Regions from separate parts of the Homo sapiens genome. Here region 2 is linked to region 1. The links come from fine-mapping of genetic effects on gene expression. A gene starts in region 1. The other region holds a variant in brackets. All regions are shown on one strand. Distances are between the middles of the regions. Region 1 holds the start of LINC00269 (long intergenic non-protein coding RNA 269). Region 2 overlaps LINC00269 (long intergenic non-protein coding RNA 269).

What was found. PIP is the estimated chance that this variant, and not a neighbour inherited with it, causes the effect.
Region 2: its variant is the best candidate, but not a certain one, in a credible set for the expression of LINC00269 in prefrontal cortex (GTEx, PIP 0.76).

The regions. Positions count from the first base shown.
Region 1 is chrX:69,177,248-69,181,634 of GRCh38, forward strand. It overlaps LINC00269 (long intergenic non-protein coding RNA 269), which reads left to right and starts at 2,310. Exons shown (of 5, transcript NR_103715.1): 1 at 2,310-2,398.
Region 2 is chrX:69,198,950-69,203,336 of GRCh38, forward strand. LINC00269 (long intergenic non-protein coding RNA 269) reads left to right here. Exons shown (of 5, transcript NR_103715.1): 2 at 2,528-2,683. Among named protein-coding and RNA genes, the nearest start is that of LINC00269, 22 kb to the left of the region's middle. The variant A/G (reference allele first, on the strand shown) is at 2,056.

The DNA of each region.
Region 1 (4,387 bases):
CCCCAGAGCCAGGAGGCTCTTGCCAAATCTGGTCCCAGCCTCGCTCCAAGGATCTCTGAAGGGAATTAGGCAGAACTTGCTGGGTGTGTGGCTGGAGAGACAAGCCAAGAGTGTGGGGAGGCGACTACCATTTGTCAAACACCTATTGTTATATACCAGGTAGGGAGTTAGCACTTAGCTCCCCTATTTAATCTCCACAGCAAGCCAATGAGATAGCAATTTTTATGGTCAGATAGGGAAGCTGAGGCCCAGGGATGTTCAAAGATTTGTCCAAGGCTACTCAGCCAGAGGTGGCAGAGCTGGGATTTGGACTCAGGACTGTTGATTCCAAAGGCAGCTCCTTCTAGGACTAAAGCAAGAGGAATGTAGTGGCCTCAGTTCCTCCCTGAAAGGGAGGCCCTACCAGGTAGAGAGTTCCCTGGTGGAGGCCTAGAGCACCTTCCTGGACCCTGGGCCCACTCTGTAGGGAGGGCTAGCTGGGTAAGAGCTGTGCTAGAGGGGCAGAGAAGCAGGTTCCTCTCACCCCAACCCCTGCAGGTTCCGCTCAGGCAGTGCTGGCCTCCCTCCTCCCATAGGGTCTCCCCGCTCCCTTTATTCCTCAACAGAGAGAGAAGGGAGCCAGCAGACAGTGCTGAGAGTAGAGTAGGCAGTCAGAAGACCAGACACAGATCATTCACAGGCAAGAACTCTGGGCTGCCCCTGCTTCACTGTTTCCATCAGGGCAATGGGGCATGGGAGGGTGTATAAGACGATGGCTGAGACCGTGTCAACTCCACCAGTGTGTGTGTGGTGAGGCCTGCCTGGGCAGGCAAGTGCTGTGACCATGTCAGTGGAGATGGCTCTGCCCACAGAACATGATTCAGGGGATAGCAAGGGCAGGAGCTAGGGTAAGCCAGGAAGACACATCAATAGCTGGTACGAGAGCTCTGTTAGGCCCTGCCTGGGGTCCAAGCCCTGCCTCTGGCTGCTCCATCATGACAGAAAGGTGGAGGATAAGCAAATGAGAATCTGTGGTTAATAGAAATGGGGTCTTTTTGAAAAGAGGAACACTAGGGGAAGTGCAAGAAGGTAACAAAGGGCTGGAAACACTCTCCTGGTTGTCCTGAGAGGCAGAGGAAATTGCACCTGTAAGAAAAAGCTTGCCTTTAGATCTCCACAGAGGCAAGGGGCACTGTGTGGCTGATTAAACGGAGCTCTAGTTACAGGCCTGATACCCCTGCTTGCTGTGCAACCCTGAGCAGGTCTTTTTTTTCCTCTCTGGGTCTCAGTGTTTCCATCTGCACAGTGAGAATTTGGACCTAAATGTTCTCCAAGAGCTCTCTCAGCTCTCAAATTCCAGAATCTTCTCTAAACCTTCTCTGAGTCAAGCCCCTTGAGCATGGCTGTGCCTCAGGCACTGACAGTTGTTTTAATGTGCTGATCAGTAGTGGAAGTCACAGTAACATTGTGAGGTGGGGGTGGTGTGCATTGGGGTCATCCTAGGATCCAACGTGAACTCCTCACCACGGCCTAGAGGCTTGAGTGGATTAATGCCCTGCCCATCTTTCCAGCCTCCCCTCTCCCTCTCCAGTTTCCCCTGGCTTCCTTTCCTTGTCTGGGATGTATCAGACTCCCTCTTGCTTTGGCACCTTCACATACACTGTTCACTATACTTGGAACGCAGGATCCCCACCTCTTTGGTAATTCTCTTCCTTTTGATCTTAGCTGAAATGGCCCCTCTTCCAGGAAGTCTTCCTGGGCCCCTAGCCTAGGCCAGCTCCCAGTCTGAAACACACTCATAGCATCATGATAATGATCATAGTAGTAGTTGCTTGTACCATATAAGTATGTTTGTATCTGTCTCTCCTCCTCAATTACTATCAGCTCCCTGATAGCAGGACCCTTGTTTATCTCATTCACAGCTTTACCCCTGGTGTCCAATAACCCAGGAAACTTTTAACCAACAAATATTTCTTGAAAACAAAACCCCTAGAAGCTGCCATGTGCTGTAGACCTACTGGGGGCCAGGCACAGACATACAGCATCTCATTGGGTCCTTGGATCATGCTCTCCCTACTTATTTCTTAGGTGCAGAGATGGTGTGGCAGAGAGCTGATGGGTTTTTTCCTTCCAGAAGATCTTTGTCCTGGACCAGTTGGCTGGGGTGTGCAGAGCTGGGCCTGGCAAGCAGGTCTGCCTGTTTTGTGCCTCCTTTTTTGCTTGCCACCACTCTTCAGAGAGGAGCAGCAGCTGTGGCCGCTCCTCGTGTTCCCATAGCAACCAATGCTTACCTCCCGCTCACACTGGTTCCTAATTGCCTGATTACGCATCTTCTCCCCCGCCAGCTCGCCAGCTCGGGAGCTTCTTGAGAGCAGGGTCCATGGCAGGCTTTGCTCACCATTGCGTGGCTCCAGGCTCAGTGAGTATTAGTTAAATGAACAAAAATGAATGCATGACCATCCATGCACTTGGGTTTTTAAAAGCTTTCATCAAAAACAAGGCACCTGGCAGCCTGTAGTGGCTTGGGGGAGGGCGAATTTGAGGACTCGTTGCTCCTGGCTCACCTCTGCTGAGTGGCGTGGGTGGCCAGCCCCCCTTCTCCTCTCTCCCCTGCTGCCTGGGGAAGCTCTTTAGAAAACAGGCAAGACAGCCTGCACGGTCATGGCTGCTGGCAGGAGGGGGATGCTGGAGACGGTGTGACACCCTCCCCTACCAATCCCCCCACCCCTGCTCCACCATGCACAGGCACACTCGAACTCCCTCACCACCTCCTTCTGATGGAAGCCATCTCAAATGGCCAGTTTTTGCTTTCAGAATTACCAGAAACAATTGAGCAGCCTATTCAATTCTAATGCTCTGTTCACAATCTCACCAGTCAGCCCCTTTACTCTGTTCCCATTGCCACCATGTTAATCCCACTCACCACCATCTTCCACCTGAGCTGCTCCAACAGCTACCTCCCTGCCCCCTTTCTGTCCTTTTCTCTTCCCCCTCGTGCCCTCCCTCACGCCATCTTCCATGAAACAGACAGAAGGAGTGTCCCAAACAGAAATCATCCCACGTTATTCCTAGCCAGACTCACGACAGAGGCAGGTGCATTTTTACTATTTTTGTGGCATGACAGAGTCTGTGTAAGTCACTGAAGCGCCTAGAGGGGAAGCAGGTAGAGCTACTAGTCCATTAATTTAGTCTTTAAATGTTTGTTCCCTTAAATGTTTGGCTTTGGACCACGCATGAGCTAGTGAGCCCAGAGCTCACAAGGATGGGACCAATATGAGTTTTTACCCTAATGGAAGGAACAGAAAAAAAAAAAAAACAATATGTGATCTGCACTTTGTAGAGGGTGCTATGGGAATGTACAGGGAAGTATGTTTGTGCAGAACCAGATGAAGGAACATTTGAGCTGGGTTTCCTATCAGAAATTGTTGGTTGCAAGCAACAGAAAGCATCTCTGATTAACTTAGGAGAGAAGGGAATTTATGGGGTTGGAGGGGTAAGCTATAGGGAGCTTACAGAATCAAGGGAAAAGCTAGAGAACCAGGTATGGAAATCGACATAAGCAAAGGCACTTCTTGGGGAGGGGTTGGGAAGGAATAGGAAGCAGGAATGGTTTGATCAGGATGTTGCCAATAACATGAATGAAGTCTGTTTCCTCTATTCTTATATTGCTTATTCCAGATTCAAAGTCCAATGAGACTGTCCAGTCACCAAGCTTAGTCCCATGCTCGCCTCCTGGCTATACTGGGCTGAGGGGGGGAAGGCAACTTCCCTTTGGCTTCTATGGAAGGAGGCATGCATGGATTTATTGTTTCACCAACATTACCCACAATCAGGCAGAGACAATTCACTAAACTGGAGCCTAAGGAAAGGGGAGGAATGAAGGCTGGGAAGCCACAAACCAACAAATGTCCACTCTCTGCTTGATGGCAGCAAAAAAAAAGAGGAAGAGGGCATTCTAGCCAGAGAGAACCGAATGGACAAAGAAAGAGCTGAAGCCTGCTGTGCTCCTGGCAGGCAGGCAGCAATGTGTGACTGGGGCGTAAGAGGAGGAAGGCAAAGAGCCACAGATGAGATGGGAACAGGGAGAAGACAGATCACAGTGTGCCCTGTGGAGTGGGCCCTAGGGAGCCAGTCTCTGGGGGTGGGGGGTGACCACATTGGCATTTTAGAACCTTCACTCTGGGGGTGTCAAGAATGGATCAGAGATGGCAAAGTTGGAGATGGGGAGACCAGCAAGGAACTCTTGTAGGCAAGAGATGATGAGGCCTGAATTCCAACATTGGTGATGAAACGGAAAGAAGACAATGGATTCAAGAGCAATGCAGGACCTAGAATCCTGAAGTTTGAGGGGGTGGAGGATGGAGAGGAGTAAGAGATGACTGTGTGTCAAGAGGGAGGAGTGAGTTTG
Region 2 (4,387 bases), 22 kb after region 1:
CCCATTGAGGCAGGGAGGGTTCTTAGGATGTTTCAGGCTTCCCAACCCAGCTCTCAAATCCTGAGCAACCAGGGGAACCCTCTCTTTCCCTCTCGTCAGGGCCATTGCAGAGCACTCCTTCAGTGGGCAGGGGGGCAATCTCCAGGACCATCCAATGTCTCTCCCCATCCTACCCACCCTACAGTACAGTCTGACTGCTGGGCTCTCCCAGACACTGCCATGCTGTTTTCATGCTTCCATTTTGTTCCCTTTGCCTTGGAAATCCTTTCTCCCTTGTCTACTTGGCAAGGTCTTGCAGAAGCAATACTAGCTCTTTACTTCTCTCTGCCTCAGTTTTCTCATCTGTAAATTAGAGATGACAATAATAGTAATAATACCTACCCCATAAAGTCATTGGGAAGATCAAACAAGCTACTCCCTATGAAATCCTTTGAACAGTGGTTGGCCCATAGTAAATATTCAGCAGACACTAGCTTATTATTACAGTTATCATTAACACTATTATAGTGTGATGGTTAAGTGCACAGACCTTAGAATCAGACTTCCTCTGTACAAATCCCCTGTGTCAACTTAACCAACTACTTGACCTCTATGTGCTTCAGTATTCTCATCTTTAAAAGGCGGTTAATAATAGCCCCACCTCATAAGGTTGTTATGAGGATCAAATGAGACAACACTTTGCACAGAGCCTGACACATAGTAAGCCCTCAAAAAATGTTAGCTGTGATGATAAGGATGCTCATCAACAATTCAGCTTCCTTTCCTCTTGAGAAAGAGAGGCAGCAGGTACTCTTGGGGAACGTGTCCACTGGAACATGAGCTAGGGAGAGACATCCATGCACCCATGCAACTCTTAGACCACATCACGTTCCTGGTTCTGGCTTGTGAGATTCCCCACCTCTGTGACTTCATGTGGCCTGTTCTCTATGCCTAGGTTGCCCTGTCCCCAGGCCAAGTTCCAAGGCCTCACCTTTGGGAGGCCTCCCACAGTTCCTGCATGTTGACTGAATTCCAGGTTCCTGTAGGACACACCCAACAGGCCATCTGAAGCTCTATCCGATGCTCCCCAAAGTCTGCTTGGGGTGGAGTTAGTTCTGCACTACAGCCCTTGATTCTAGTCCTGGCTCTGCCCCCTGACTTTCTGTGTGACTTGGGGTCAGTGTCTTTTCCTTTCTGGGCCTCGTTTTTTTTATCTATAACATGAGAAGTTTGGCTCAAATGGTCTTTAAGGTTTCTCCCAGATGGGTAAATCCTAGCATTACTCACCACTGTCATCCCAGGGCTAAGCTAGTCCAGTGCCTGATGTTAAACATTTGATAGGGACTCAGACTGAACTAAAGTGGACTGATTATAGAACCACAGACAAATGCCTCGACCCAGTCCCTCCCATACCTCCTGTACGTCCTGTCACCCAGGCTTTAGCCATCCTTGGCTGCCCAGCTCCCCAACCTCTGCAACTCAGGGCTTGAGGACAGAGCCTAGCTGCTGCCTGAAGGCTGGGCTGCTGGGGCCCCAGCAGGAATGTTCCTGGGCTTATTTTGGTCCCTTAAATTAGAAGGCTGGAGGTTCTAATTTACAACTCCCTGCCTGGAGCGGGAGCCTGGGCTGGGGTGGCCTGCCTCAGCTGCCAAGCATGAACCCCACTCTAGACCACAACCCAACCTCAGAGCTGCCTGTGGCTATTCCTGCATAGCAACAGCACAGACAACAAAGGCCCCTTAACCTTCCTCTTCTAGCGGCAACTATAGCAGTGGCTGCTGCTGCCTTGGGACTCAGCAGGATGAGGTACAGAACAGGGAATGGGCTGGCTAAGTCAAAACACTAGGAAGGCACAGATAGTTCCTGTGCCCACACTGGGCACTCACCCTTTGGGCATCTTGGCAAGGCCACAGGGGCTGCCCCCACAGAGCTAGGCCAGACAGAGAAATGTGGCCAATGGAAACTAAGGCCTGGGACCTAGAGGGCCACTGAGCTTTGAGGGAAGAGCCAGCTGTTTTCCATCTTCACTGAGGACTGAGGGAATAGAAACAGGCAGGAAAAACAGTGAGAAGAACC[A/G]CTGGTTTCAAAAGACCAGCTTTCTATCCTAGGCATACTGTGGAGAGGTGACTGGACCTCCAGCCGTCCTCCTTCAATCCACTCTCCAGGCTGCCATCAGAGGTACCTTGCCAGCAAAGACCTGATCGGATTATTTCTTTAATTAAAACATTTCAATGGCTCCCTATCGCCTACAGGGGAAAATCCAGCCTTTCATTCAAGGAGCTAAGGCCCTTCACAATGTGGCCCCAGCCTACCTTTCTGCGCCACTCCCAAGGCCTCTCCTACCCCACACACCCTACAATACAGCCACTCTGGCGGCTGGCTTTCCCCCAGACCTCCCATGCTCTTTCATGCCTCCATTTTATTCCCTCTGCCTGGGAAGTCCTTTCTCCCTTGGCTCCTTAGCAAACTCTTTTTTATGGTTGAAGCCTCAGCTCAAATATTCCGTATTCAGGTACAAAGGTAACAGTTTCCTCTCTTGTGTTTCCAGTGTTTCCCTCAGACTTTTATTCATTCAAGCAGCATGTATTGGATACCTACTATACAACAAGCATTGTTCTAGGAACCAGGGATACAGTGGCAAAAATGACAAGCCATAGACCCTGCCCTCATGAAACTTCATGTAGAGGAGACATACAGCAGATCGGTAAGCTGACAAATACATAAGATGATCTGAAATAGTGTTGTGTACAGGGTGTACTGGAAAATGCTGAGTGATCTGCTTAAAGGAGGGCATCTGCGGCACCTGCTGACTTCTGTGGTGCTGACATTCCCATCATGGCTCATCTCAAGCTGGCAGTGTGAAGTCATTGAATACTGAGTTGGGAAGAGCCAGTGAAAGCCAGCTCCAGCACATTGGTACATACTAAAAAGAAAAGAAAACCAGTTAATAGAATAGAGAGCAACTGAGGCACAGACGCGGGGAGTGTTGCTAAATTCAATTAGGTGCGGGGTGGGGCCAGGGAAGGCCTCTTTGAAGAGGTGACATTTAGGGGATGGCCTGAATGACAAGAGGCCAGTTATGCAAAGATCTGGGGGAAGCTCTTGGCACTTTTGGTTTTTAAAAATACTTTTTCTATTGAGGCATAATTTCCATACATTAAAGTGCACTAATCTTAAGTGTACAGCTCCATGAATACTTACATATGTATCAGCCTCTGTAACCACCACCTAGGTCGAGATATAGACCATTTTCAGCACTCCAGAAGGCTCTTGTGTGCCTCTTCCCAATCAGTAATCCCTGTCCCAAGGGAAACTACTATTTTGACTTCTCTCCCTGTAGGTTGGTTCCGCATGTTTTTGAAGTTCATATCCATGGAATATAAATATAGCATGCCATAGTATGTTCTTTCTTTATGCTGTATTTCCCTCACTTAACATCACATCTGGGAGAGCCGCCCATGTTGTTACATGTTACATGTGGCCATGTTCTTTTTCACTGCTGTGTGGTATTCCATTATATGACCCTTTCCTGGTACCTTCCATGTTAATGATGTTTCCCTGTCTGTCTCCTCCTCGGGGCCTGAGACAGGGCAGTGTAACACAGCACGAGCAGCTATGAGCTCTGATGTGGGCCCGACCACTGCTGAGCTCAGGGATGTGGAGTCCTCTTCTCTGAACAGGATGTTCCCTTCTGTCTTTGTATCCATGAAACAGATAGTGGCAAGCCTTCCTACAGATGTAGCAAAGAGTTAGCAAGATGATCCACAGCAAGCACTTAGTGGAGGCCCTGGTCTGGAGGGTCTGCTCAAGGGCACCCCAGGTGCCTTCTCCACCCTTGGCCTGTGCATTTGGCAAGCAGCAGGTATAGTTCGTGCATGCATGTGGGGGAAACACAGCACACATATGATTGTATGTTGTGCTGTGAAATGACTGCCGAGATTGCTTTGGGGATGGTTGGGGTGAGGGACAGGTTTGAGGCACCAGAGGCACTTCCATTGCTGAGAGTGCCCGGAATGTGAGCTGCCACAGAAAGGTCTTCAGTACCCTCCCCACTAGGCTGGACCAGGATGTATAGAGGGAAAGAAAGAGGCAAGGGACTTATGACCCCTGCCACAGCGCTTGCACAGGAAGGAGTGCAGAGCATTCTTGCTGGGGTCTCTGCTCCCTCCCTGCACTCCGCTTCAATTTACAGTTGCATGAACTTAGGTTTGGAGAAGTAAGGTCAATTTCACATAGCCTAGAAAGTGTTGGAGGAGAGATTCAAACCTAGGTGTGTTTAACTGAAAGCCAGTGGGTTGAGGGCATCTTGTGAGACCTTGAGGGTGCTGACCCAGCCTCAAGGAGACAGAGTAGCTGGGCAAGCAGGCTGGGCTCTGGCCTGGAGGAAGGCCTTGGGCCTGGTGCTGCC